Linked DNA regions of Homo sapiens. The main gene of each other region encodes a partner of the protein of the gene in region 4 in a complex. Each region holds a gene or a part of one and is shown on either strand. Other genes may lie near its edges. A codon is read from its position in the direction of its gene.

Region 1 (7,077 bases), about 110 Mb from region 4:
TAACTCAGTAATCAGGAGCAAAATGCAGTTATAGAAATGAGGGGCAGGGGCCAGATCATAAAGAGCTGTGAATGCTATGGTAATGAGTTTGGGTTTTACTCTGTAGGTCAAAGGGAGCAACAGAGGAATTCTGAGCAAGTGTGTGCACATCTGTGTCTTAAAAGACCTACACTGTGAAAGTAGATCAAAGTTAGGGAAAACTGGAGTCAAAGTGGCAAGAGATTACTACAACAAATTAAGTGTAAAATAATGAGGCAATGAGAGACTGAACTAGGGCACTGGCCATGGGGAGAGATGCCACTGATACAAATAAGACTTGGTATTAAGAGTGGGGTGATAGGGAGCAGTCAAACATAGCTCTCAGATTCATGAATTAAGCACCTGAAAAAAAAGAACACTAGAAGAAGAATGGATTTGAAGGAGAGGGATAGAAAAATGACGCTATCTATTAAGCAGCAGCATCAAGGATCTGGAATATCAACAGCTACGGACTAGAGATACAGACCTAGGAGGCATCAGTATATACCCAATTAAAACTATAGATATATGCAGAAAAGAGAAACAAGCACAAAAATCTAGGCACAAGTAGACATGAGTCTATCACGGTAGCTGAGATTAAGAAGTCAGAGAGAGGGGTGGAGGATCTAGAAAAGCAAAAGCAAAAAGAGACAAGAATTTCAAACAGGAGGACACAACTAGTTTCAAGTATATCAGAGGTCAAACTAGATAAGGAGCAGAAGCGTCCCCGAGATTTGGCAATTAGGTCACCACTTTGAGGTGGAGTCAGAGAAGAGAATGGAACTAAAGATTAAAGAAATAAAAACTGGCAAGTAGAGTCTACTTGTCAGAAAAACTTAAGAAATGGATTCAGGGTGGTAGATGTTAGAGAGCATTTTGTATGTTTTTATAATAGAATGTCTGAAGGAAAGGAAAACTCTGAAACTGTTACTGTTGAGGAACAAAGGGCAGCAGGGTGAGTGGTAACAGAGATGCTCTACCAAGCTCTTCCCTCCCTTTCCCAACAAAGCACACCTACCTGGATGGGGCATCCCACCCGGTGGGAATGGGTGAGGATGTGAGTGTCCATGACCAGGATGTCCTGCCCCTGGGGTTCCTGCCGATGGGGGGCCATGTCCTGCAGCCCCAGGAGGCATAGGTGGTGGGGGCATGGCTGGGGGTATCCCAGGTGGGAGGGCTCCAGGAGGTGGCACTGGGGGTGGGAAGGAGCCAGGAGGAGGCATGCCTATAGAGGAAATGGAAAAAGGAAGAGTTAATGGTAGTGAGGAGAAAATGTCTTTAAAGAGCCTGTCCTGATCTGGCCTCTCCAGGCAGGGTGAGCTCTTTCCCCCTCCTCCCAGTGCTCTAAAATCAAAAGCAATGTTAGAAAAGTCAACCAACTTCACCCTCCTAAAGAAACCCAACAACTTTCTTCTTCACCACTACCATCACCCCTCAGTCCTCTTCCCATCAACTCACTGACTCAATGTCCCCTGTCCCCCTTTCAGACTTGTTTTCTTCTTCCTCCTGACCCTCTCCCCCAACCTTAAGACAAACATATTTTAACCAAAAGCTTTACCTGGTGGAGGAAGCCCAGACCCCAATGATGATACCACAGGATTGGGAGCAGAGGGTGGAGGAGGTGCATCTGCAAACAGCTGATGAGGGCGATCAGCCTGGGAGAGCGGGTTCTGAGCTGCCAGAAGTCGTTCGGCTGCTGAGCCATGGCGCTCACCCTTGGAGTCCTTCTTGAAGGCATAAGATACGGTGATAGGACGGTTACAGAGGTACTGCCCATTCATGGCTTCAATTGCTGCATCCGAAGCATCAAATGAAGCAAAATTAATAAAGGCATAACCTTTGGAGTTGCCTGTGTCAGGGTCCCGCATAATTTTGGGGGTTTGTAAGATGACCCCAAAGGCGCTGAAAGTATCATAAAGCAACTTCTCATCAATCTCAGGGTCCAGGTTCCCAATGAAAATGTTGGCCCCTACATCCAGGTTTTTGTTGTGAGCTGATGCTTTGTTCACCCGTATTGGCTTCCCATAGAGTTTGATCATGTTCATGATCTTAATGGCATAGTCAGCATCTTCCTCACTCAAGAATTCCACAAAGCCATAGCCTGGAAAAGTGGAGAAGAGGAGGTTAACAACGTAAGTAAAGAGACTGAAAATGGGGTAAAATTCATCTACCCTCTAATCACAAAGAACAAGAAAGAAACAACATCACTTTACTTAAGAATGGTTCCAGAAATAAACTGAAGAGAGGCTTAAAAGAAAAAAATCTTTAGGTTGCTCATGTTATTCCAAAACAGTTGTGAATACTGCTGGGACCCTCCGGGAGCAATTCGCCCCTTGTCATGTACTCACCTTGGTGCTGGCCAGTGACTCTATCCTTTGGCATGTGGGTGTTGACTACTGGTCCAGCCTGGAGAAACAGTTCCCACAGCAGCGGTTCACTAACCTTCTCATCCAGGCCCCCCACGTACACAGTGGCATCTTGAAGGGAGGGAGCAAAAAGAGCAAGCGTGAGAGTGTAACGGGAAGGAAGGAAGTGATGGAAACATGAAGATGGAACCCAACCAGGGGAACTGGGGACCGCGGTAGGGGACAGGAGCAAAAAAAAAAGTTTAAACCCTTAAACTTCTCTCTTCCCAGGACTTCGGGAATCCTCTGAAGTCTAATTTAGTATTGTGAGTGGGTTTTTTTGATTTTTTGAGTGAGAAGTCAGCAGGGGACCGGACTTAAGTATCACACCCAGAGGCCTCAGCCAGCACCCGGCCACCCCGCCCCCAACAGGCAGAGGGCCGGTCTCGCGCCCTCTGGGGAAGGGAGGAGTCCAGTCTCCCACCCCTGCAGAGACACTGCTGGCTGTAGTCGGGGCCTCCTAGCCACGCTGAGCCCATTCCAGACTTTCCCCCTCCAGTTACCCTGATTCCGCTCGGAGATCGGCCCGGCAGCCATGGCGAAAGAGATCCCGCCGTCTCCCAGCAGCGGTTCCGCCTTCTGACCTCAGCACGACTTCCACTTCCGGGGCGAAGACGGACGTAGCGGTGGGCGGGGCCGCGGAAGAGGAGGTGCCTGGAAGCGGCTGCAGCCATCTTAGGAGCCTCCGAAACTTAACCTGGGTCGGGCGGTAGAGTCCTCGGCTCGCGTCCTGAGGTGCCGCTGCTAGTTGTCTTAGCGAGGAGGGCGGAACGGAAACGCTCAGGCCCTCTTAATGCACTGCTAGACTTGAAAGAATCACACTGCTCTCAAAAGTGTAAATTCGAAAGCTAAAAGAACAAAAATTTCAGTTTTAATATATTTTGTGGACAGTGATTCTTCTTCTGTTGTCCAGAGAAGGATGTGCTGAAGAGTTCCCCCCAACCCGAGGACTTGGGGGCTTTCAGGCGCAGAGGGAGCCTTCCCTCTCGCCTGCAGCCTTCTTGCAGATTTGGCCTCACAACCCTGATTTGGGCTGGAGGTATTTGGTTTTCCCTCAGGGGAGGAGACTGCGAAATGTCTGAGCTTAGAGTGACGTCTGCGCTCACCTCGTCCTAATTGCATGGGGAGGGTGAGGGCTGCTCCGCGTTGGTGTGTGACCACAGCTGAGGGGTGGATGGGATCGGAGCTCTAGAGTCTGGATCTCTAGAACACTCTGGCCCCATCTGCCTCTAAATGGGAGACACACACAAGAGAACCCTTTCCCCAAATTGCACTTGAATTTTGCAGAGCCTCACCAAACCCAGTTCCCCTATTTCCTTAGCAATAATATGGTGGATGCCTTCCTCTCTTGGGTCATACACCCCTTTTACCCACCACTTTCCTACCTAGGAGAATCCTTTATTCAAACACAAGAAACAATGCCAGCAATGTGTATAAATACTATGCTTTAATGAGCCCCTTAAATAGAAATTCCACTACAAAAATACAGAGGAGATAGGGTGTTTCCTGTATCCGCCTCATTCCCATAGAAAACTATAAGGGAAGAAATAGAACTTGGAATTAAAGCAGCAGCAAGGCGAGGTGAGAATGCGATTTCTAGGCCATCTTGTTGGGACTGATGAACAGCATCTCTGATCTCATGATTTAACATCTGGTTATCCAGAAGGGATGGGATTGGCCTAAAAAAACCGATCAATTTCTGGATTGTTTTTGTTTCTTAATCCTTCAAATGACAAGAAGCAAAAATATTTGTAGAAACTAAGCAAGACAAGAGTTGGAGCAGTTAACACCACTATCTGCAGCAGAAACTCAGACCTTCTTAGTGAACTTAAGGGCTGAAGTGTGAAAGCTGAGGCTGCAAGTGCAGATACAAAAAAAAAAAAAAAAGATTAGACAGAACCCTCCTCTACCCCAGATCCCCCTCTGCCCTGCCTTTGAGAATGCCAGCAATTTCAGTGGGATTGAGAATGGTATGTGGATCTCTTTTCTTGGAGTGATCCTCAGGAGATATTCTTGGTGTCCATTTCCGTAATAACTCCTGAAGATGGGATAGCTCATCCTGGAGGCCAGAGATTGTGGGAGCTGAGAGGCCCATCTGGGGAGGAGGCAAAGAGGAACAGAGAAGAATACTGTTGTAGCTCTGGCCCCCTGCTTCTCTGCTACTTCTGGTGTCTTTAATTCTGTTTCCCCTTTCAGCTATGCCCTAAATTCCACTTAATCTAAGCCACAAGCACTTTCCCGCACCTCCTACACTCCCAAACCTTGTTTGATGCCAAGAGGAGTAGAACTTCACTTCCCAGACTCCCAGAGGCTTCAGCTCCTTGCCTTTCCAGCTCCTGTTCATCTGGTTCAGCAGAGTCAAGTCCCTTGTCCCACTCCCAGTCTATTTTCCCTTCTTACCTGGACCTCAGGCCTTCCCCTCAGGTAGCAGCGTCTCCAGAGCCTGATCTGGGGTCCCAGATACCCAGGCAGCAGCAGCCCTGGAGGTAAAGGGCAAGCTCCCCAATGTGAGGGGAGACCCCATTCCTGGTCAGCCAGGCTTTCAGAGGAGATAGCAGGTCGAGGGAGCCAACGAGAAGAGACTGCCAGCAGGGAAGGACTGTCCCGCCAAGGACAGAGCTGATTCAGGGGGGTCAATGCTCCTCTAGAGAAGAGCCACACAGAACTGGGGGGTCCAGGAACCATGAAGCTTGGCTAAAAGGAAAAGAAAATCAACTGGCAACAGAGAGACCAGATAACCCTAGTTTCCCCAATCTGGATCAGGACAGGGTGTCCTGCTGCCACCCACTCACTGCACTGGTGACTAGAACTACAAGCCTCCCCATGAGAACTCTTCTACCCTCCTCATTAGGCTTCAACTAGGCCTCGGGACTGATTAAGGTTGATTTTAGGGCACCTTATGTGTGCACGAGACAGGAAGATGAGTAAACAGACTTGAGGAAGGACAAAAAGGGTGCCCTCTGTGCTATTCTAGGTCTTCTGTCTTCCTAGGGACACCCAGGGACTATAAGTGACAGCTGCAGAAGAGTAGTGGAGTAGCTTTCCCTAAGGAACTCAAGACATTTTGTCTTTCACTTCTCACTGTCTAGTAGCATGAGCCTGTGGGAACGTCAAGGGAATTTAGGAAGTTTAGACACTTCACCTGTGGTCTAGGGAGCCAGGAATCTGGACAGTGTTCTGGGTCATAGCCAGGATTCTGGAATTGTAGTATCTGTGCATTGCTATAACGTAAATCCCAGTCCCAGACAGACAGCTGCAGGTTAAAAGAGTTCCCAGCTGGAGGCTGGGAGTATCCTGGGGTGTAGACTTGTGTATAGGAGTTTAACTGGACAGAGGAAGCAAGAAAAAGGATGGTTACACACAATCCTCCCACATCTAGAGACAAATCATGAGATTCTCACCTCTTATTCTAGGAAAGATGTAGGGCAAAAGTCTCGTCCTGAAAATGAGAATAAATCTCCCCCTCCCCACTCACAGACCTCACTTCTCATAAAACAAATCAAGACCAAACTTCAGAGAGTACATCTCAATGGAAAAAAAAACACGAGTCAAAAATAGAAGTCACTGACCTGTCCGCTCTGCTTTCCGCGCTCCCAGGGGGTATTTCTCAGGAAGGTAAGGGTGTCAGGAACCCTGACACTGTCATGAAGAGCAAGAAGGAAAAACTCAGAGAATTCAAAATCAGCTGGAAACTGCTGGAGGAGCTGCCAGACACAATCAAGGAAGAGGAGAAACACCGGAGCCTGAAAAGAAATTAAGAGGTTGGAAGGGATTATTGGGACCCAAAGAGGGAGGATGACGAGATGATAAGGGAATGGGGAACACAGGGAATAGGGGGAACTTATGGAAGTCAGGGAATGAAAATCTGAATTGAGGGTAGCAGGGGCTTGTAAGGCCTCACTCATCAGGATCTTCGTCCCAGCCTAACCTCGGGGCCCTTCTGACCGGATTCACCTCCAATGGATTATACAAAATAATTTCTCATTCTCTTACTTCCTTAGTAATATGCCCCCGATGCCATCCCGAATCATTCTCACCTCTTCACTGGCCCCAGTTCCCCCAAGCCGAGTCAGGAAGGGATGTCCAGCTGCCACCCACTCTCGCTGTACTAGTGATTGGAAGCCAAACAGTGTTCGGGCTTCGGGGGCTGAAAGCAGCTGGACGAGTGAAGAGAGGAGGCCATTGAGATCACGATCACCGCGCTCTGGGTGATAAAGAGGAAGAAGGGACAAAGAAGAGGGGTCCAAGAAACTAGGGCAGAAGAGAATGAGAAGAGAAATACGGCAAGGAGAAGTGAGAGGCACAGAGGGGAAAGGTTTGGGGTAGGAGGATTGAGAAAGCACATAGAAGTGAAGAGAAAACAAAGACCTTGAATGATTCACTTCCTGGACTCCACCCGGATAGAAATACCCAGTTTCACATGTAAGGGGCAGAATCACAATTCTCAAACCAGCTTCCACACTGCCCTTCCCACCCCAACCCCAGTCTCCATCCGCTGATGGAAGGAAAGGAACAAAGGGGCTAAGACCATCCTAGTGTCAGGGACCACAAGTTGTGATGGGGAGGCAGAGGTAGCACTGAAGGATGAGAGTAGAGCTCGCAGGTAGTTCCCAGGAACAGGAGAGGAAGAAGCCTTATGGGTCTCCCTCCCTGA
Region 2 (7,022 bases), on a different chromosome or scaffold from region 4:
TAAGCCACATGGACATGTGGTGTCTCGTTTTCTACAATGACTGTTTTTTCCTATTTTAGTTGTGATGGAGTGGAAGCAAACCACCACAGATTATCTCACAAAGCAGCTATAATTCAGTTAAATCCGTGGAGTAATGTTAGAATAGCATTTTTGTTGTTTTTTTTAGAGACAGGGTCTCGCCCTGTCGCCCAGGTGCCCAGATGCCCAGGTTGGAGTGCAGTGGCACAATCACAGCTCACTGTAACCTTGAACTCCTGGGCTCAAACAATCCATAATAAGATTTTTAAAACATATAAAGCATTAATATGAGACTTAAATGATGTTGTGAGACTAAAAACTTGCCTTAATAGTTTAAGCAATATCCTAGAAGACCAGCACACATTTTAAATTTTTCTGAAAATGGTACTGTTTCCCTCCCTGAAAACACCTAAAGTGTAATTAAAGTAAGTCTTAAACCCTTCCATCTATTTTAATTAAGAATTTAAGACTACAGGCTGTGCGCAGTGGCTCACGCCTGTAATCTCAGCACTTTTGGAGGCCAAGATAGGTGGCTCACTTGAGGCCAGGAGTTCGAGAACAGCCTGGCCCACATGGTGAAACCTCATCTCTACTAAAAAATACAAAAATTACCTAGGCGTGATGGTGCATGCCTGTAGTCCCAGCTACTGGGGAGGCTGAGGCAGGAGAATCGCCTGCACCTGGGAGGCGGTGGTTGCAGTGAGCCGAGATTGAATCACTGCATTCCAGCCAGGGTGACAGAGCGAGACTCCGTCTCAAAAAAAAAAAAAAAGAATTTAACAATACATTCCAATAATCAGAAGGTCAGTGGTTAAATGAAGAGCTTTCTCAACTGCATTATTCAGACCATGCCTCAAAAGAGATTTCTACATGGAAGTATTTTCCAATACCACAATGCATTTATTATAAAGTAATTTTTTTTTAATGGAAGTAAATAACACTCACCCAATGGCCTTTGCAATATAACCAAATGTGTTGACTGTGGCTCTACGAATAGCCTTTTTGTGGGCTTTTAAGAGCTCTAAAAGCTCAAAGCAAATCCTCATCCACTCTCTTGCAGATACATATTCAGCTCCCCTAATTTAAAAAATACACATATTAATTATTGTGACATTAAGAAAAGTTTTAAGGATAAATTTGCAAATTCAGTTCTAAAAACATGATTAACTCATTTTAAGCATTAAATAAAACTTACTACTCTTCAGAAAGGCTGAAGAGTTAGTCTTACAGGTTTAGTCCTAAAATTACATTGCCACCCCCATTACCATCCAAATTGAAATTTGACTGAAAATATTAATACTGGATAGCCTAATCTTTTACACTTATATTAGTGACATTAAGGAAATTTTGCTAATTGAATACAAAGTGGCCAAATTTGAAAATTGATACTGCTTATAAAAATGTGTGGGTAATCTGCTTACCTGTCAGCAATACGACCAACAAGATCAATACAATTCTCTTGTACTTTTTCATGTCTGTTCTTTAAGATGGGGGTGAGTCTAGGCAGCAGATCTTTAATTGGTGGAGTCATCTTATGCATACCTATTTAATAGAAGTCAATAAACTATCAACATTTGAATTGCAACTTTTGTTCACTTTCCTTTTACTTAGCAATGTCATATATGACTATGTATAAATATAAACTTACAGCTGCCTAGGGAAAGAGAAAGCCCCAGATTCTGACCAGACTCAGAATCGTTTTTAACTTTTATTAACAATTTTTGATTATGTATAGAAATGAAAGAAATCAGTGAAGTGATTTAAAGGATGATGGATACTCAATAACAAAAAAGTTTTGTTTGATTCTGAAATATATTTGTGCACTGACATTTAAATATGGGGACAGCTTATGTTCCGGCCATACACAACAATATAAGCCAGAGGTAAACATGTAAATAAAGCAAAAATTTCCAGAAAGGGCCCCCTTACCCTTTAACTGCAAAACAAACAGATCTCCAGTCTCCCTGCAATGCAGGGCATACTTGGATGGTATTTACACCTACGAAGAGAGAAAAAAGGAGGCAGCTGGCAGGGGCTCTTGCTCTAACTAGAATCACTTGCTCTGATTCTCTCTCCATTGCTCTTCCCATGCCTCTCTGACAAACAATATGGTTTAAAACTCCCTGCAAACCAGAGCCCTACAAGTGGCCATGTAAATGATTTCTGGCAAGTAGCTATCTTCAAGTATAGAGGATAGGGTTGCATTGGAGATTATATGCAAATACAATAGTTTAAACATGTGTATCGCATAAATACCTCTTACAAAATGAGGAAAAACAAACAGTGGCTCTCTCACAGTCAGCTATTTTGACTTCTGCTAGGTTATCAGAGCCTCTAAACTCTGCAGGAGTTACATTTGGCAACAGTTATAATCAATTTAAAAAAAAGATTAAATATAAGAAACCATTTGTTTTCTTCATACTGCCCTAATGGAATAAAAACTTTGCTCTCCATATCCAAGACCATTTGTAATATAGCTGTATTACGGGTTAGAAAACTGAATGGACAGTATTTAAAACTTGGGTATGTAAATAAAGACAATAATTTGATCAGTTCACTTTTCTCTGATTATATTCCTTGAAACTGATCACAAGCAAAAAACCTGTCATAATCGCTAATTCAAGGTTTAAATATATATATATTGTTCTAAAACTAAATTAAAACTTTAGGATTGCCTTTTCACCCCGCAGCAGAACATGGCAGAATATATTTCACCTGACACACTATTTCTACTAGGGTCCTGTATTCCATGACTTCAAAGCTTTTTGAGCTGTGACTACTCCCACCTCTCATGTAGGTCCTAAACTTACCCTTTTTTTCTCTTTAAAGTAAAATATAAATGGGTTTTGGGAAACAAGACTTTTGTGACATCCCCCGACTTAACTACAATCTTGAAGTGCTTTTAAAAAGCTAACAAAAACCTCCCAACTCCTAAATAAGATTTTACTTACGAAAAAAAAAAGAAAAAGAAAGTTAAAACAAGAAAAAGTCTTATGTAACCAGCAAATTCCATACCTATGACATTTACAATGGCCTTCAGTGCTCCAAGAATGCTGCCCAATACTTCAGGGTACTCTTCACCCAAATACTCATACAATACAACACCCAAGTGTCCCATCAATTTTTCCTATAATAAAACAAATAATGTTAAAATGTTACTATTTACATTAAACTATTTGGGGAAGAAGTAAGAATTTGATGCAAAAGTTTACCTCTTGACAAGTCTTCATGACAACAGCAGTTCGAGAAATCAAGTCAGCTGCCTGTTGCCTAACTTTAGCAGATTTGTTATTTAAACGCCACAAAACTGTACCACAGATCTGAGGCAAGTATGGTTTGACTCGTTTGCCAAGAGCATTAACCACTGTGCCAAAGCCGTTCAACATTACTGAGTCCTAAAAAATAAATTTAAAAAAAAGACATATTCATTTGGTTTATGACTGCACAGTTGAAATACACTAAGAGTCAACCTTTTCTAACCACCCAAACATCTGTTGCTGTTTTTTTACATCAAATCTTAAAACTTGAGGTAGAATAATATCGTTTGGTAACCCCCTGAGCATTTTAAAAATTACTTCAAATTCAATTGCATTCTAGAAAAATTTGCTTGACAACTAATATGCTTTTCTACAAATATTAAAGTTAGTAGCAATGTGCCATAATAGTTTTCATTACCTCTGTAGTCTGTTCTTGGAAAGCATAAAGAATACCATCAATCAGTTGTTCTTCAAGTTTATGATCAATATCTGCTGCTCCCAAATTACCCATAATTTTCTCAATTGTCTCCATCACCATTTTTCTGTACTGTTCGGCTTCATCTTTCAGATCATCCACAATCCTGGATATAATTTCTGCTGCACCTACTTTGTTTGCCAACTCCACAGTAGTATCAACTAACTAAAAAGAACAGAAAAACAAAAAACCTTTTAGACTGCTTTTCCAAGGAAATAAAGCAACATCATGAAAACCAAATACTCTAAATATACTACTTATTTAGCTAATAAACATGGTAAGAATGATTCATTGCTACTTATTAAAGTTGAAGAGAAAAGTGACCAAACATCGAAAAATGAGTATAAGTTAACATGATTCAAGGTAAAACTGTGTCCATGTTTCATCTAGCCAGATAAAGCACTGAATGTACCAGACAAAAACATCAATTCACAGTTAAGTATTAATCCTCGAATCCAAAATCAAAATGGAAGTTAACTGGCTGACTAAAATCCATCTCCTTTCATAATCAAGCACATATAAACTGTGAGATAATCAAGGCAAAAAATAATATACAACATGCATTCAAGTTGACTAAAGAATGAGTTGAAAGGACTTTTGAGAATATTCTTTTACAATAAAAGCTTACCTGTCGGTAATTTCTTCTATCCAAAGCCATCCTGTGCTGCCAGAAGTGTTTAAAAAAGGGAGGAAGAATCTCTGTTTTAATGTAGTTTGCTTCTACACCATCTGTCCCACAACACTGTTTTACCACCTAAAAGGTTAAGAAATAGTAATAATAAATCAACTGACCTGAAATGAAGAGAATACTCATTGCTGATTACGTGATTTTAAAAAATAAAATTTAAAAACAAATCAAACAGTATTCGTGTAACATACAGTTTTTTTTGTTGATTTTTAAAAACACTTTAAAATTCTGTTAGAACCATGAAACATATCCAGTTTACATTAACAAATCTGGAATAATTACCTTCAGCACAATTTTTTTCATTTCCTCATCAGGAGACTGGAATTCTCGAATAAGGATTAACATCACTTCTCTAGTATAGTAGTTGGCATATTCTGCATCCATAAGAGGAATAAGATACCCAATAGCCTTCAAGAAAGCAGCCAAACCCTATTTTTAAATAAAAAATATATGTACTTTAGTAATTTAGATTTATGTCGCCTTAACTTTAATGAAGATAAATCAAAAGGTAATTGGTGGATTTACCTTTCCTCTGTGTTGGCGGATACCCTTCCATAAAGGCTTTAACACAGAATCAAAAGATTCGATACCATAAGGAGTTGCTGCTTCAGCCAAGGCAGCAATGGCCAAAGCACTGATGGTCCGAACTTTCTGCTGCTCATCCACAAGACCTACAAAACCAAACACAGGTTTTAACTATGCCCCAACATTACCTAAGTTACACAATATCATCCAGATTCTCTCAATATATCAACTATTCAGCCAAACTGCAGAATATGTTCACATTAAACAAAATTAGGTAAAAGCAAAACATGAACCATAGCCTGTCAGCAGATAATATAACAAACCCATCATAAAATCTATAGTTTGTAGAGCTATGCCTTTCCATTTATCTCCCCAAATCAGTAGCCCAAATTTTAGGACAGCTGTCCTATTAAACATGGACAGGCTGTGTGTGTACCTCTAGTCCCAACTACTAAGGAGGCTGAGCAGGAGGATCACTTGAGCCCAAAGGTTTGAGTCCAGTCTGGGCAACATAGTAAGACCCTGTCTCCTAAAGAAAAAAAAAAAAAGACAAAGTTACATTACAACTTACCATGTTCAATGATTTCAACTAAACTTCTAAGATGTGGCAAGATGGCACAGCCCATAAGAATAGCTATCTGTTGTACAATCTTAATACCAGTGTGTCTCGCTTGCCAGGACTTCTTGCTTTTGCACACAGCTTTTAAGAAGGGCAATAAAGAAGGAATGCCCAGGGCAGAGGCTACAACAGCAAAAGCTCTAGCTGTTGTGTTACGGACATACTCATCCATGTTATCTATATCAGGTCTCATGGTAGAGATCATAGTAGCCAGACCAGCAGCCTAAAATGTAAACAAAGAAAGGACAGTCATGAGTTGGTAATATTAATCTTCAACCATTTCTTTCCATAATCAATTCCATAAACAGATATAAATTTTCTTCTCTAGAAATTAAATGTAAATACCTTTGCCAAATTAGAAATGATCTCTCGGCCTTCCACTCTAGCATAGTAATCTTCATCAATCAATAGCGGTTCAATGACCACGAGGATCTGAAAAAGAGAAAAGAGAAGAAGCTACACTTTCACATCAATTACTGATGAAATGCTCATGTACAGAATTAAACATACATAAGAAATTTAGAATTATCAGGACTTTTGTTAATCAAGGGACGAACTGTTTAAGAATTTTAATTATACAAGTTCAAACTCCAGACAGAGATGAAAATTTAAGAGAGCTATTAGTGACACACTAATATTCAATATTTTTTAAAGAAATAACTTATACACCCTATGAACATACTGCACCATAATTACCATCGGTGAAAAAACTGGTTCTTAATACTAACTGGCGTTAGTTCTCATATGTTCTCATCCTAATCTAATTTTAATAAAAGCAAATGAAAAAATTAAATAATATGAACCTCTTACGGCAAAGATGACAAAAACTAACATCTGTACATCTGTATAAAACTGTATTTGTACATGTATGGTGTGTACTTGTGCAAAGGAAAAGGTCTAGGAGAATATGTAAATTTAACATTGATTAACTGAAAAAGTTAAAACTTTAAACTATCAGAAACACTATTAAGGAGAACAAACCTTATGCACATATGGACGAACTAAGTCATCAAGTTTGTACAGTATCCTATCAATAACTTTCACAAGTAAATGACGCTCTTGATCCTCAAGTGTAGGAGACATCAGCAGAGGAAGAATCTGATTAAACAAAGGACCAGCTCCAAATTCACGAGCTTTATCAGTAATCTGACGCAATGCAGCCTGGGAAAAAGAGCAGAGTAATAGGTGTGGTTTCTTTATAATCAAACATTTTGAATGAGCAAATTACTCAAAGAAGATTTTCCATACTTTAATATTTTAGTGTTTACTTTTACACACATTTTACATAGACAGCATGAGTTCATTTCCATCCAAATTACTCTGGAATTTCAATTCCTGTGATAGAAATTTTATGTTAACTCAAAAGAGTAATTTAATAGAACGAACCACAGAGGTATGTACTAAATGCCTTCATTTCCCTGAAGTATCTTCCATTTCCAA
Region 3 (7,022 bases), on a different chromosome or scaffold from region 4:
GGAACATGGTTTCTCAGAATGTAGTCGGAGTCCCTGCATCTGAATCACCTGGGCATTTGGTAATGTAGCAGGACGAGTCGCAGACAAAACTCCTCAGACACCGGATTAAAGAAGGAAGAGGTTTTTTATTCATCCGGGAGCGTCGGCAGACTCGTGTCTTAAGAGCCGAGCTCCCCGAAAAAGAAATTCCTAGCCCTTTAAAGGGCTTACAACTCTAAAGGTCTATGTGAAAGAGTCATAATAGATCAAGTAAGCGTGAGGAACGTGACTGGGGGCTACATACATCAGCTAACAGAACAAAAAGTTTTACAGTGCTTTCTCATACAATGTCTGGAATTTACAGATAACACCAGTAGTTTTGGTCAGGGGTTAATATTATTATTATTTTAACCACCAGGGCCAGGTGGTGGCACCAAGGTCGTCTAGCTATTTATCTTACTTCTGTTTCTTTCCAACTTTTTGCTTTCTCCCTTTTCTCCTGTCTTATAAACTAGGGAAAAGGGGAGGTTGGGGAGAAACTGGGAAGGACAACAGGAGAAGTGCTGGTCTCATACCATAGTAAAAATGCAGATTCCTGGTCTCACTGAGATAGTCCAGTGAGAGAGGAGCCAGGGAAGCTGCTCTTCTCCCTGGGTCCCCAGGAGCAGCCCCTGCAGGTGCAGTGAACTTAAGAGAACTGCTTTTCTGAAGTAGAGGGTTCTAACCTGAGGGAAGTCTGTGAATGAAAGTCTACTCTGAATGATATCCTAGAGGAGTTTTACAGTGGAGAACCTGCTCTGAACCAGGGACTTTAAAACCTTATTTCTTTTCCTGTTTGCACAGCCCACAGAAGAAGAAGCATCTTCAAAGGAGGATTCTGCACCTTCTAAGCCAGTTGTGGGGATTATTTACCCTCCTCCAGAGGTCAGAAATATTGTTGACAAGACTGCCAGCTTTGTGGCCAGGTAACAGAGCTACTTGGGTGGGTCAGAGGTGGGTTTCAGCATGAAGAGACTTCAGCACTGAATCAGCACAAGGGTTTTTAAAGAGACGTTGTTGGCTTGGGCCTTTTAGTTCATAAAAAACCACAACATGGCACTGGGGTAGGCAATAGGTAGGACTGGTGTCCCTGACACAGCATAGCAGTGGCCAAAGTGAGAATCACACTTAGCCCCACAGTCACCAGGAGCCTCTGCTTCTAAAACTGGCCTGAGGAAATGCCTGGAAAGCTGCTTCATCACAGATGGTGTGTGTCTGTGCCTGAGCTGCTGGCCTGAGGAAGATAAAAAGGGGAGTTTATTATTCTCATTGTACAAAGACCACATTCCAAGAGCCTCAAATGACCCATCTGCAAAATGGAAAAAATGCCATCTCAGAGTTGTTGTGAGGCGGGAGTGAGGTCATGGGGCTGCATGCAGTTCAGTTCCACGCGGGTGCTAGTCACCTCCTCAGATGGCATGGGCATTGCTCCGAGTTCCTCCTGTCTCTCCTCACAGTTCCATGCAGGTGCTAGCCGCCACCTCAGATAGAATGGGCATTGTTCCGAGTTCCTCCTGTCTCTCCCCACAGTTCTGTGCAGGTGCTAGCTGGCTTCTCAGATGGAATGGGCATTGGTCAGAGATCCTCTCTCTCCCCACAGTTCCATGCAGGTGCTAGCCGTCTCCTCAGATGGAATGGGTATTGCTCTGAGTTCCTCCTGTCTCTCCCCACAGTCCTGTGCAGGTGCTAGCTGGCTTCTCAGATGGAATGGGCATTGGTCAGAGATCCTCTCTCTTCCTACAGTTCCATGCAGGTGCTAGCCGCCACCTCAGATGGAATGGGAATTGCTCCGGGTTCCTCCTGTCTCTCCCCACAGTTCCACGCAGGTGCTAGCCGCCACCTCAGATGGAATGGGAATTGCTCCGAGTTCCCCCTGTCTCTCCCCACTGTACTTACCCTCACATCCTTAGATGGAATTTTTTTACTGGCCCCTTGACTCCAAAGGTCAGTACATTCTCTAGGGTATTTAAGGTATTCCTTTGGCAGCCCTCAGTCCATGTCCAGCCTACAGATGTTTTGTTTGTCCTCACAGTAATTTTTTCGAAACTCAAATTTGTTGCTACTATTTAAAAATGAGGAGGTCAGGTGCTGTGGCTCTTGCTTGTAATCCTAGCACTTTGGGAGCCCAAGGTGGGAAGATCACTTGAACTCAGGAATTTGAGACTAGCCTGGGCAACATAGTGAGACCCTGTCTACAAAAAATAAAAAGTTATCTGGCTGTGGTGGCATGGGCCTGTGATCCCAGCTACTTAGGAGGCTGAGGCAAGAGGATCGGTTGGGCCCAGAAGGTTGAAGCTATAGTGAGCCATGGACTCTAGCCTGGGTGACAGTGAGACCCTGTCTCAAAAAAAACAAAACAAGTAAAAATGAGATTTCACAATCAGTCTGGATTTCTGGACAGTTCCTTCATGTGTGGAAGCAGGCCCAATCAGCATGTGTTCTCCAGGGACCACGTCACCCCCCTGAGGCAGTGTCTCAGTCAGTATGCATCATTTAACGGATGGTCCTTCCTTTCCCAACCTAATAAAATTAGACATAAAGATTACTTTGGTTAGACTTTCTTTTTTTTTTTTTTAAATGACATGGAGTCTCACTCTGTTGCCAGGCTGGAGTGCAGTGGTGCAGTCTCAACTCACTGCAACCTCTGCCTCCTGGGTTCAAGTGATTCTCCTGCCTCAGCCTCCCGAGTAGCTGGGACAACAGGCGTGCGCCACCACGCCCAGGTAATTTTTGTATTTTTAGTAGAGACGTGGTTTCACCGTGTTGGCCAGGCTGGTCTCAGTCTCTTGACTTAATGATCCCCCGACCTGGGCCTCCCAAAGTGCTGGGATTACAGGCGTGAGCCACGGCACCAGCCTACTTTGGTTAGACTTTCACTATGTCAGCTCTGCAGATTCATCTCATTACATTTCAAGGGCTTTGATTACCTTTGAGTATTAGGTTGAAAGCTTCTCTGTGCTTGATTGAACATTGTGATGATGTTGATTGGGTCATGTCAGATTTAGACAGTGTTGTGTTTAAGATAAATGTTTAATGGCTCTTAGCAGTGTTCATGCCTCCCCTTTTCCCCTGATACTTTAAAAACAGAATATACAGAAAAGGGGAGTTGGGTGAAGAATCACCATATTCTCATTACCAGAGTAGTGTCTACCAGCTGTTTTCACATTTTTCTGTTTCCTTCTGTCCTTGGAATCCTTTTTTTAGATCCTTGTAATACTAGTAAAGATATTCCACTCTGTGTTGTAAGCATTTTTCCATTTTGCTCCATGGTCTTCATAATGCCCTGTGGTCCTTTATTAAGGGGATGCACCATGTAGAGGTGAAAGGCTTTCCTTGACTTGGCCACCATTTCTGTATTTTCCTTAGAGGAGGAGGTTTCCAACATTTCTTTTTTAGAGACAGAGTCTCGTTCTGACACGCAGGCAGGAGTGCAGTGGCATGATAACAGCTCACTGCAGCCTTGAACTCCTGGGCTCAAGTTATCCTCCCACCTCAGCTTCCTGAGTAGCTAGGACTACAGGTGCCTGCCACCACACCCAGCTAATTTTTTTTTTATTTTTTTTATTTTTTTTAGTTTTTTTGTATAGATGGGGTCTTTCTGTGTTGCTCAGGTTGGTCTTGAACTCCTGGCCTCAAGTGATCCTCATGTCTCAGCCACCACAAGGTGGCTGGGATTACAGGCAGTGACCACCGCACCTGGCCTGTTCCCAACATTTCATTTTGGCAAATTAAGCTGTGGGGAAATCTCTGAGCATTTTCTTTCCCTTTTAGATCGTTTCCTTAGAAGAAAATTCTGTGTGGCTCATTATTGGCTAAAAGAGCATCCTTAAAAGATTTCTTAAACATTTTGCCAAGTAGCTTTCCAATAATTTTGTGCCATCCTCTGCTGCTAAAGAAATAAGAGGATATCCAAGGTCCCTTTAAATATATATGACCAGGTTAGGTGGCTCACGCCTGTAATCCCAGCACTTTGGGAGGCCAGGGTGGGAGGATCGCTTGAACCCAGGACTTGGACACCAGTGTAGGCAATATAGTGAGACCCCTGTCTCTACAAAAAATAAAAAAATTAGCTGGGCATGGTGGCGCATATCTGTATTTCTAGCCACTTGGGAGGATCACTTGAGCCTGAGAGGTCAAGGGTATGATCATGCCAGCGTACTCCAGCCTGGGGCGATAGAGCAAGACCCTATCTCAAAAAAAAAAAAAAAAAGAAAGAAAAAAATCCAAAACCATGCACATCCCTAGATTGATTTTTAGCTATGGTGATTGCTTTTGTAGGCATTTCTAAAATCTGTGAGCCAGTGTGGTGGCTTACACCTGTAATCCCAGCACTTTGGGAAACTGAGGTGGGCAGATCACCTGAGGTCAGGAGTTCAAGACCAGCCTGGCCAGCATAGTGAAACCTCGTCTCTACTAAAAATACAAAAAATTAGCCAGGTGTGGTGGCGGGCGCCTGTAGTCCCAGCTACTTGGGAGGCTGAGGCAGAAGAATCGTTTGAACCCGGGAGGCAGAGGTTGCAGTGAGCCAAGATTGTGCCACTGCACTCCCACCTGGGTGACGGAGCGAGACTCCGCCTCAAAAGTAAATAAATAAATAAAATCTGTGAACTTATCGTTTACATTGCAACAAAGAGACCAATATCCGAGTTAAAGCAGGCATGCAGAACTCTGTGCTTCACTTCTCCTGGGTTCACGTATATTTATGGAGCATGCAGTAGAAATGCACAACTGAGCGGTTTTCCAAAAGTTTTTTCGCTAGGTTAGGCCTTTTCATTTCCTGCATGTTCCTGTCAAGAAACTGAAGTGGAAATTACCCTTAAAAAGTCCCACCAGCTGGGTTGAGTCAGAATCATGTCTTTTTCTGTTGAAATCTATTCCTTCTGGTGGAGAGTATGATTCTAAAATTAACGTTAAGCTAATTTAAAGCAACTGAATAGCTTGGAATGAACATGCCAAGCCTTCTCATTGTTTTATTTTTCAGATTGTTCCCAGATGGGGTAAAGTTATGGCTTAGGCAGTGGTACAGGAGACAACCAGGGCCCCTTTTTCCAGGAGCCCTTTGTCTGCCCGAGGCATTTGCTGGGTATAGTGGCCTAGTTTAGCAGGATTTAAGTGTGCATTCACCTTCATTCTTATGTGTGGTTTGCATTATTTAAGGAGTAGGGAGAATTTTTTTTCCAAAGCATGAGGTTCCAGTTAGACTAATATACTGTCAAATTGAGACCTCATGGTGTTAGTTACACGGCAGGGTATGACCACGACTTGCTGAGGAGCCAGCCTGGGTGTCGATCACTAGTGTGGCACATAATTGCTGTGGTGGTTGATCTGGGGCACAGCACTGCCTGTACCCTGTCTCCTGCCATCTGTCTTAAAAAAAATTTAAAAAATTTTTGTTTTCAGAGGTGAAATTTCATTTTGTTGCCCAGGCTTGGGTATGATCTTCTGGGCTCAAGTGATCCTCTCGCCTCAGCCTCCTGAGTAGCTGGGACTACAAGTGTGCGCCACTGTGCCGGGCTCCCACCCCCTCTTAAACTCACAGGCCAGGGATATGAAAGTCTGAAGAGTGGAGCTGGCTAGCTGGCACCAGATGCCGGGGCCATGCCTTGGTGTGTTTGGGGCAGTTCTAAGTACAAGGTTCTCGCCAGAGGAGCAATGGAAGGCCCCACAGACAATGTTTATGGAACAACCCCTCCTAGCCCCTTGCATTTGCAGGCCACTGTACGATTTGAAAAGACTTTGAGGGCTGGGTTCAGTGGCTCACGCCTATAATCCTATCACTTTGGGAGGCCAAGGCGCTTAAGCGCAGGAGTTTGAGACCAGCCTGAGCAACATGGTGAAACCCCGTCTCTACAAAATGTAAAAAAAAAATTAGCCGAGCATGGTGGTATATGCCTGTAGTCCCAGCTACTCAGGAGGCTGAGGTGGGAGGATCCCTTGAGCCCAGGAGGTGGAGGTTGCAGTGAGCTGAGATTGTACCACTGCACTCCAGCCTGGGTGACAGAGTGAGACCCTGTCTATAAAACAAAAACACTTTGGCATCTCCTCAATAATGTTTCAAGGTAGAAAGGGAAACTGGTGTTAGCTGCATTTTACACATGGGGAAATGGAAGCAAAGAGTAGTTTGGTAACTTGCTGTGGGTCAGAGTGAGTCAGCAGTGAACCTGAGACTTGAACGTGTTCATATCTTGTGTCTTTAAGGTCCGTGTACTTTCTGACTGACACAGGTGTTGTATATAAGTGTGGCACTTTGAATATTACTGTTGGGACATTTTAAAAATCAGGGTTCCCTAAACATCATTATAGGGACATTTTTTCATTATCCTGAGGTTTTGAAGGCTTGCTGGGGACATGGGGCATATCTGGGGAACCATCCCAGGTACAGACAGTGGTTGGAGACCTCCCTGCTGATCTTACCACACCCCTGTCATCTGAAGGTGCCTTATACAGCTGTACGAGTCTGGGTTTTTGCTGAGGATGTTTCCTGTGTGGGCCTCACCAGTATAATGGGGGTGGTTTTAGGGAGTACTTGGACAAGGCGTTAAACCAACTATTTGTTTTTTGTTTGTTTGTTTGTTTCTTAAAGACAGGGTCTTGCTCTGTTTTCCAGGCTGGAATACGGTGACACGATTCTAGCCCACTGCAGCCTCAGACTCCTGGGCACAAGTGATCCTCCCACCTCAGCCTCCTGAGTAGCTGGGACTAGAGGCACACACCACCATGCCCAGTTAATTTATTTTTATATTTTTTTGTAGAGTTAGGGTCTTTTCTTGTTGCCCAGGCTCAAATCAACTAAATTTTCATGTCTTTCAGTCTTTCTTGTTACTCAGAGGACAAAGTCTAGGTTTGGTGCTCATGTACCTTTTACACCTCTCCAGCACTTGCTACCCCTTTGAACTAAGAGAATTAGTCTCAGCAAACTTCCAGCTAAACTTTGACAGTATTACTTTGTTTTCATTATGTTCACTTTTGACTACCTTTTGTTGGTAAAGGCATACTGATTTTTT
Region 4 (7,851 bases):
AGGCGCAGTGGCTCACGCCTGTCATCCCAGCACTTTGGGAGGCCGAGGCGGGTGGATCACCTGAGGTCAGGAGTTTGAGACCAGCCTGGACAACATGGTGAAGCCTCGCCTCTACTAAAAATACAAAAATTAGCTGGGTGTGGTGGCAGGCATCTGTAATCCCAGCTACTCCGGAGGTTGAGGCAGGAGAATTACTTGAATCCGGAGATGGAAGTTGCAGTGAGCCGAGATAGCACCACTGCAGTCCAGCCTGGGGGACAAGAGCAAAACTCCGTCTTAAAAAAAAAGAAACCCAGACATATAATCAAAGGTGTGTCATTGTTTAATTGACAATTTTTTCTCTCTTCCTTAGTAAAGCATAAAATAATACTGAGTTTTACATTTGATGGCATCTCGTATTCAAGAAATACAGTAGCTCTCCAAGTTTATACCCCCCAAAAAACAAAACAAAACAAAAAACATTTGCTGAGTCTCCCCACTCCCTGAATGGAGATTTCTACTTTACCTCTTTCCTAATGTCCCAGGAAAAGCCCCAGATGAGTTGTGACTGGGTCCTTTCCCTAAGCTTGGCAGTCCTGCTTAAATTTCCGATATACAAATAAGATCCCCATAACACCCTCATGAGTGGGCAAAACACAGGTCACTATTTCCATTTTATATTTATTTATTTATTGAGACAGAGTCTCACTCTATCGCCAGGCTGGAGTGCAGTGGCGCGATCTCGGCTCACTACAACCTCCACCTGCCGGGTTCAAGTGATTCTCCTGCCTCAGCCTCTCAAGTAGCTGGGACTACAGGCGTGCGCCACCATGCCCAGCTAATTTTGTTGTATTTTTAGTAGAGACAGGGGTTTCACCATGTTGGCCAGGATGGTCTTGATCTCTTGACCTCGTGATCTGCCGCCTCGGCCTCCCAAAGTGCTGGGATTACAGGCGTGAGCCACCATGCCCAGCCTCCGTTTTTTCAAACTTTTTTTTTCTTTTTTGAGACAGGGTGTCACCCAGGCTTGAAGATTATAGCTCACTGTAACCTCAAACCCCTGGGCTCAAGTGATCCTCCCGCCTCAGCCTCCCAGGTAGCTGGGAGTACGGGCAAATGCCAGCAAGCCCAGCTAATTTTCTTATTTTTTGTAGAGATGAGGTCTCGCTATGTTGCCCAGACTGTTCTAGAACTCCTGGCTTTAAGCGAAATTCCCAGCTTGGCCTCCCAAAGTGCTGGGATTACAGGCGTGAGCCACTGCACCCAGCCTGCTTTCAAACTTTTAAAAACAAAAAGTAATGCATGTTTACTGTAGAAAAATTGGGCTGGGTGCGGTGGCTCACGCCTATAATCCCAGCACTTTGGGAGGCCAAGGCAGGAGGATTGCTTGAGCTCAGGAGTTGCAGACAAGCCTGGGCACCACTGTGAGACCTCATCTCTAGTAAAAATTTTTAAAAAATTACAGCGGGTCTGGTGGCTCATGCCTATAATCCCAGCATTTTGGGAGGCCAAGGCAGGAAGATCGCTTGAGTCCAGGAGTTTGAGACCAGCCTGGGCAACACGGCAAAAAACCCCATCTCTACAAAAAATACAAAAATTAGCAGGGTGTAGTGGCGCACATCTATAGTCCCAGCTACTCAGGAGGCTGAAGTGGGAGGATAGCTTTAGCCCAGGAGGTCGAGGCTGCAGTGAGCCAAGATTGTGCCACTGTACTCCAGCTTGGCAAGACCCTGTCTCAAAAAAAAAAGAAAAACCTTGGCTTGGTGTGGTAGCTCATGCCTGTAATTCCAGCATTTTGGGAGGCCAAGGTGGGCGGATCACCCTGAGGGCAGGAGTTCAAGACCAGCCTGGCCAACATAGCAAAACCCCATCTCTGCTAAAAATACAAAAATTAGCTGGGCATGGTGCCACGCACCTGTAATCCCAGCTACTAGGGAGACTGAGGCAGAATTGCTTGAACCCAGGAGGTAGAGGTTGCAGTGAGCCAAGATCGTGCCACTGCACTCCAGCTTGGATGACACAGAAAGACCCTGTCTCAAAAAAAAACAAAAAACAAAAAACCTCGCAGTTTTTTGGTGTGCGGTGGCTCACACCTGTAATCCCAGCATTTTGGGAGGCCAAGGCAGGCAGATCACCCGGAGGTCAGGAGTTCAGGACCAGCCTGGCCAACATAGTGAAAGCCCGTCTCTACTAAAAATACAAAAACTAGCCAGGTGTGGTGGCAGTCACCTGTAATCCCAGCTACTCAGGAGGCTGAGGCAGGAGAATCGCTTGAACACAGGAGGTAGAGGTTGCCGTGAGCTGAGATCGCGCCACTGCACTCCAGCCTGGCGACAGAGCGAGACTCCCAAAACAAAACTTTAAATGTGGCTTTTGTTGCGTGGGAAAAAAATAAAAAATTAACCAGGGTGGTGGCACCCACCTGTGGGGGCCACAGGGGTGGAGGCTGCAGTGAGCCATGATTATGCCACTGCACTCCAGCCTGGGGCAACAGAGAGAGACCCTATCAAAAAAAAAAAGAAAAAGAAAAAAAAGAAAAAAGTGAACAATAGGTAAATTACTAATAATGTGATGCATTATGTCCTCCTCGTTCTTTTTTGTTAAACATAAATGTGCACATATGTATTTTCAGTTTTAAATTAATTTTTAAATTGAAAAAGTATGTTTAAGAATAACTTTTTATGCTGTGCTTGGGGTGTATACAAAGAAAAATCTCCCATATCAGATCTCCAAGGCTGTCTGCTCAGGAACAACCACTGTTTACTGTTACTTGGATATCCTTACAGAAATAATCTCTTTGCACATCTATTTTTATACACACTTGTGCATCTAGCTTTTTTCAGTTTGTGTGGCCATCTCTCCATATGAGTTCATACAGAGTTTTTAACAGTTTTATTGAAGTGTAATTTATATACCATAAAATTCACCCATTTTTAACAGTACAAAGCAATTAATTTTAATAAAATGAATAGAGTTATGCAACTATCACCACAATCCAATTTTAGAACATTTCTACCCATCCAAAATGGATTCCTTGTGCGCATTTGTAATCACTTCCAATCTCACCTGCGGTCACAAGCAACCACTCATATTTCTGCCTCCATAGATTTGCCTTTGTTAACTCAATTGTAGCCTAAAGCTGCCTCCTTACATATTTTAAATTTAGCCTAAAGGTTTCTCTGTACATTGTGAACTATAACCTAAATGGAGTTGTAAACAGACCATAGCCTACTCTTTGCCAATCACCGAGTTTTGGCCAATCAAACATGGCAAACTATGCAAACCGTGTTCAAATAAGGCAAAGACCAAGCTGTAATAACCGGTGTTTTTTTTTTTTTTTCTTTTTGCAGGGGCCATGCTAATCTTCTCTGTATGGTTCCAATTTTAGTATATGTGCTGCCATAGCAAGCACCAGTGTTTTTCTTTTAACACCGTTCTGGACGTTTTATCTGGACATACACTGTTGTTTTTCTGTCTAGCTTCTTTCACTTAGCATGATGCTTTCATGGTTCATCATTGTAGTATTCATTTATTGCAGAATAATGTTCCATTGTACTGTATAGATATACCACACTTTATCCATTTGCCAGTTAATGGACTCTTGGGCTGCATCCAGTTTTTGTCTATTATGAATAATGCCGCTGTGAACATATGAACACATGGACATGTTTGCATTTCTCTACCTACAAGTGGAGATATATAGACAGAATTTTTTTTAAGGCTGTATGTCATTTCACAGCTGGTCTTCCACTGCTTGGATGCACAGTATTTTATTTTATTTTATTTTACTTTTTTTTGAGACGGAGTCTCTCTCTGTCGCCCAAGCTGGAATGCAGTGGCATGATCTCAGCTCACTGCAACCTCTGCCTCCTGGGTTCAAGTGATTCTCCTGCCTCAGCCTCCCGAGTAGCTGTGACTACAGGCGCGCGCCACCATGCCCGGCTAATTTTTTGCAGTTTTAGTAGAGACGGGGTTTCACCGTGTTAGACAGGATGGTCTCAATCTCCTGATCTCGTTGGATGCACAGTATTTTATTTAACATATTCGCTGCCGATAGACAAGTCGTTTCTACACGTGAATTTCTTTTTTTTTTTTTTTTTTGAGACTGAGTCTCATTCTGTCGCCCAGGCTGGAGTGCAGTGGCACGATCTCAGCTGACGGCAACCTCTGCTTCCCGGGTTCAAGCGATTCTCCTGCCTCAGCCTCCGGAGTAGCTGGGACTACAGGCGCCTGCCATCACGCCCGGCTAATTTTTGTTTGTTTGTTTTTAGTAGAGACGGGGTTTCACCATGTTAGCCAGCCTGGTCGTCTCGAACCTCTGACCTCAAGTGATCCGCCCGCCTCGGCCTCCCAAAGTGTTGGGATTACAGGCGTGAGCTACCGCGCCCGGCCTCACATGTGAATTTTTTTAAAAACACCACCAGCAAAACCCCACTATTCCCATTTTCCTGAGAAAGACGCTGAGGTCCAGAGAAAGAGAAAACGTTCTCATAATTTATGCTGAAAGCTGCGTCCTCAAGTTCCGGTTTCCCAACTCCCATCCGCACTCCAACTGCTCGCGCAGTCCACACAGGATACCTGCCCGCCAAGCCGGCCCCAGCAAGCCGCAGGAAGCCGTCCGCTGAACCTCAGGTTCTTGGGTTTTCCTATGCCCCCTGGAGGCATCTGCGAACCTCTCGGCATCGCTCCACCACACCTCCCACCAGCAGGTGGCACTGTTGCCATCTCCATAACATGGACTGGCCTTCCTTGTGGTGCTCCTGTTTTCTTAAGTCCCGGGGCACTTCCGGCACTCGCGGAACTTTGGTGCAGCCTGATGCGCAACGTGGGGACTCAGGCGCGCTGGGCGGCAGGAGTTGCTTCCGGCCGTGTTGGTGGTCTGAATTGAGAAGCCGCGACTAAGGGAAGATGGAGACAATACTGGAGCAGCAGCGGCGCTATCATGAGGAGAAGGAACGGCTCATGGACGTCATGGCTAAAGAGATGCTCACCAAGAAGTCCACGGTGAGTGGGGCCTGAGCAGAGGCTGCGGCAGGAGCACGAGCCTCTATCCCGTGTTTGACCTCTGAGAGCTTGCTTTGGCCCTCAGAACCTCCCTGCCTTCCTCCGGGCTCCCTCTCCGAGCTCCGGTCTTGGTAACCTCCTCCCGGGGTCCGGAGCCCCAGAGGCCTTTCTGCCTCAGCTGGTAAAAGCTGAGCGGGTAAGCTCCGCCCTCGGGCGGCCTTTTCTACTCCAGAACGCAAACTAACGGCGTTTGTGTCACCGTTTGTTTTTTCAGCTCCGGGACCAGATCAATTCTGATCACCGCACTCGGGCCATGCAAGATGTGAGTGCCCAGCTGTCTGCCTCTCTTTGGGTTGGCGAGGGCGGGAAAAGAGAGGGGAAGTGAAGTGCGGTGTCTCAGCATGAGTCCCTGGCCAAAGGTAACCGGATTGGCCAGTCGCGGGCTCTCTGCCTGGACAGATGTCCACAGGCTGCCGAACGTGAGGGTGCTTCCTCAGTTCTCTGAATGGGGAACTCTTGGGCATTCTTCATTAATCAGAAAGGTGCCCTTTTTTTTTTTCTTCTTCTTCTTCTTTTGGACGGAGTCTCGCTCTGTTGCCTAGGCTGGAGTGCAGTGGCGCGGTCTCGGCTCACTGCAACCTCCGCCTCCTGGGTTCAAGCGATTCTCCTGCCTCAGCCTCCGGAGTAGTTGGGACTACAGGCGCTCGCCACCACGCTCAGCTAATTTTTGTATTTTTAGTAGAGACGGAGTTTCTACTAAACATGTTGGTCAGGCTGGTCTCGAACTCCTGACCTCGTGATCCACCTACCTCGGCCTCCCAAAGTGCTGAGATTACAGGCTTGAGCCACCGCGGCCGGCTTACACGTGCCCATTCTTACAGCATCCTGTATCCCTTGGATGTGCAAACAATAGTTATGAAGAGTCCATGACTCAGGTGCATAGCTACAATCCTTCCCTTAAATGAAAAAAAAAATATATATATATATATACACACACACACACACACACACAACACACCCCGTATGTTAGTGTTTTTCTCCCAGGATACTACTTTAAAGCGTTTTGGACTACTAAACTGCATTTGTCTGGTAATAGTTCAGTTTATTAAAAGAAAAACAAGATGCTATTTAAACTGGGTGATGAATAAATGGAGGTTCATTTTACTACGTTCCTTACTCTTGTGTATGTTTGAAACCTGTTTAAAAAGGAATAAAAGACCTACTTGGACCTTCTGATTTGCAGGAGATTATCAGATTACAAGCCCTCAGCCCCAAAATACTCTGAAAACCAAGGATTTTCTTTTTTTCCCCTTGGGTGATTATTTGGTGTCAAAATCTGACCTGATCTCACTTGACAGTAAAACCTGGCCCGAACCTGTGATAGGCTTTTTATGGTCTTTAATTTATCCCACTTGGTAAATAAGGTATGAGGTTTACTGCAGAACTGTGTGCTCCAGATTCCACTAGGGATGTTACATAATATATGATACCTCTTTTGAACTTAAACATTCCAAATTCTGAAACAAATCTGGTCCCAAAAGTTTTGGAGGAGGGACTATGTACCTGTACCATCCTGAATTAGTATACTTTGACTACAAAGGAAGCCTATGTAATGTTTATTTAGCCTGCCTACTCCTCAGTCAAGCGTTTTGAAATAGTGAATATCATCTTTATCTTTGAGGATGTTAGGTGGGAACTAGTGTTTGGCCAAAGAGGGTGAGTCTGTTACAGGGGAAGTTAGGCATCGGTGGTATGTAAAGATAGGAGCCACCCCTTAAATGTATCATTTAGGTAATCTTCCAATCGACCTGCTTAAAAAACTAAACAGGAATCAAGGCTGTTAAAGGGCTATTAAAAAACTAACCAGGAATCAGGGCTGTTAAAGGTACTAGGAAGCACAGAACTGTTAAGACTATCTCATATCCATGTCTCTTGAGGTTGCCCTGGGCTTTGACTGGAGAACCCTTGTTGTTTGCTTAGCTCTACAGTTGTGCAAATTGCATCATTCTGATGGTTTTGTATTTGCCTTTCAGAGGTATATGGAGGTCAGTGGGAACCTGAGGGATTTGTATGATGATAAGGATGGGTAAGTGACAGTCACAGCTAATCCAGGAGTTAGTGCTTCTGAGGAGCCATGGTTAGAGGACTGACTTTGTGCTCTATCTTCTTTGAAATTTTCCTGAAATTGCAGATTACGAAAGGAGGAGCTCAATGCCATTTCAGGACCCAATGAGTTTGCTGAATTCTATAATAGACTCAAGCAAATAAAGGAATTCCACCGGAAGCACCCAAATGAGGTATGTCCTCAGAAAAGTATTTTCTCCAGACCTATCCTTAAAGCATACTAAAGGAAAGGTATAAAGGAAACTGGACATGTGCTATTCAAATGCACTTCAAGAAAGAACTTGCCATTTAGCTGCAAGGACCATAGTTAGCTGACATCCTACAATACAGTGTTTTCAGTATCTCCCTCAGCTTTTAAGCCAAGGCCGGCTGGGCACGGTGGCTCACGCCTGTAATCCCAGCACTTTGGGAGGCTGAGGTGGGTGGATCACCTGAGGTCAGGAGTTCAAGACCAGCCTGGCCAACATAGTGAAACTCAACCTCTACTAAAAATACAAAAATTAGCCAGGCATGGTGGCATGTGCCTGTAATCCCAACTACTCAGGAGGCTGAGGCAAGAGAATCACTTGAACCTGGGAGGTGGAGGTTGCAGTGAGCCGAGATTGCGCCATTGCACTCCATCCTGGGGGACAAGAGTGAGACTTTGTCTCAAAAAAAAGAAGTCAAGGCCACATTTTGTGGGCAGCTCCCAGCCAGTGACTGAGCACAGTATGGGTACTAGGGCCCAGCAATTTGGTCCACTCT

Evidence for each region.
Region 1: SF3A3 (region 4) and SF3B4 share a complex: the UniProt entries of both Homo sapiens proteins name them as parts of the 17S U2 SnRNP complex.
Region 2: SF3A3 (region 4) and SF3B1 share a complex: the UniProt entries of both Homo sapiens proteins name them as parts of the 17S U2 SnRNP complex.
Region 3: the proteins of SF3A3 (region 4) and SF3A1 are in contact, whole or in part, in an NMR structure (PDB 2DT7), measured with the Homo sapiens proteins. Residues at the interface, in NP_006793.1 of Homo sapiens: Glu80 (codon at 7,215), Phe81 (codon at 7,218), Glu83 (codon at 7,224), Phe84 (codon at 7,227), Tyr85 (codon at 7,230), Arg87 (codon at 7,236), Leu88 (codon at 7,239), Ile91 (codon at 7,248), Lys92 (codon at 7,251), His95 (codon at 7,260); in NP_005868.1 of Homo sapiens: Ala161, Phe162, Asp165, Val166, Leu169, Thr170, Phe173, Asn177, Phe181, Gln184, Leu185, Lys188, Phe195.

The regions. Positions count from the first base shown.
Region 1 is NC_000001.11:149,924,800-149,931,876, forward strand, and holds the start of SF3B4 (splicing factor 3B subunit 4), read right to left. Parts: upstream 3,005-7,077; 5' UTR 2,961-3,004; coding exon 2,927-2,960; intron 2,496-2,926; coding exon 2,367-2,495; intron 2,120-2,366; coding exon 1,577-2,119; intron 1,244-1,576; coding exon 1,037-1,243; intron 1-1,036. Other genes in the region: MTMR11 (myotubularin-related protein 11), read right to left, coding at 4,330-4,518, 4,824-5,117, 5,566-5,748, 5,993-6,166, 6,461-6,627. UniProt on the Homo sapiens protein: Component of the 17S U2 SnRNP complex of the spliceosome, a large ribonucleoprotein complex that removes introns from transcribed pre-mRNAs.
Region 2 is NC_000002.12:197,397,022-197,404,043, forward strand, and holds part of SF3B1 (splicing factor 3B subunit 1), read right to left. Parts: intron 6,744-7,022; coding exon 6,564-6,743; intron 6,015-6,563; coding exon 5,928-6,014; intron 5,806-5,927; coding exon 5,535-5,805; intron 5,110-5,534; coding exon 4,964-5,109; intron 4,868-4,963; coding exon 4,721-4,867; intron 4,505-4,720; coding exon 4,379-4,504; intron 3,916-4,378; coding exon 3,694-3,915; intron 3,414-3,693; coding exon 3,231-3,413; intron 3,146-3,230; coding exon 3,034-3,145; intron 2,018-3,033; coding exon of another isoform or gene 1,948-2,017; intron 1,561-1,947; coding exon 1,440-1,560; intron 1,096-1,439; coding exon 964-1,095; intron 1-963. UniProt on the Homo sapiens protein: Component of the 17S U2 SnRNP complex of the spliceosome, a large ribonucleoprotein complex that removes introns from transcribed pre-mRNAs.
Region 3 is NC_000022.11:30,346,873-30,353,894, reverse strand, and holds part of SF3A1 (splicing factor 3A subunit 1), read left to right. Parts: intron 1-822; coding exon 823-944; intron 945-7,022. UniProt on the Homo sapiens protein: Component of the 17S U2 SnRNP complex of the spliceosome, a large ribonucleoprotein complex that removes introns from transcribed pre-mRNAs.
Region 4 is NC_000001.11:37,987,002-37,994,852, reverse strand, and holds the start of SF3A3 (splicing factor 3A subunit 3), read left to right. Parts: upstream 1-4,830; 5' UTR 4,831-4,887; coding exon 4,888-4,983; intron 4,984-5,257; coding exon 5,258-5,305; intron 5,306-7,016; coding exon 7,017-7,069; intron 7,070-7,174; coding exon 7,175-7,280; intron 7,281-7,851. UniProt on the Homo sapiens protein: Component of the 17S U2 SnRNP complex of the spliceosome, a large ribonucleoprotein complex that removes introns from transcribed pre-mRNAs.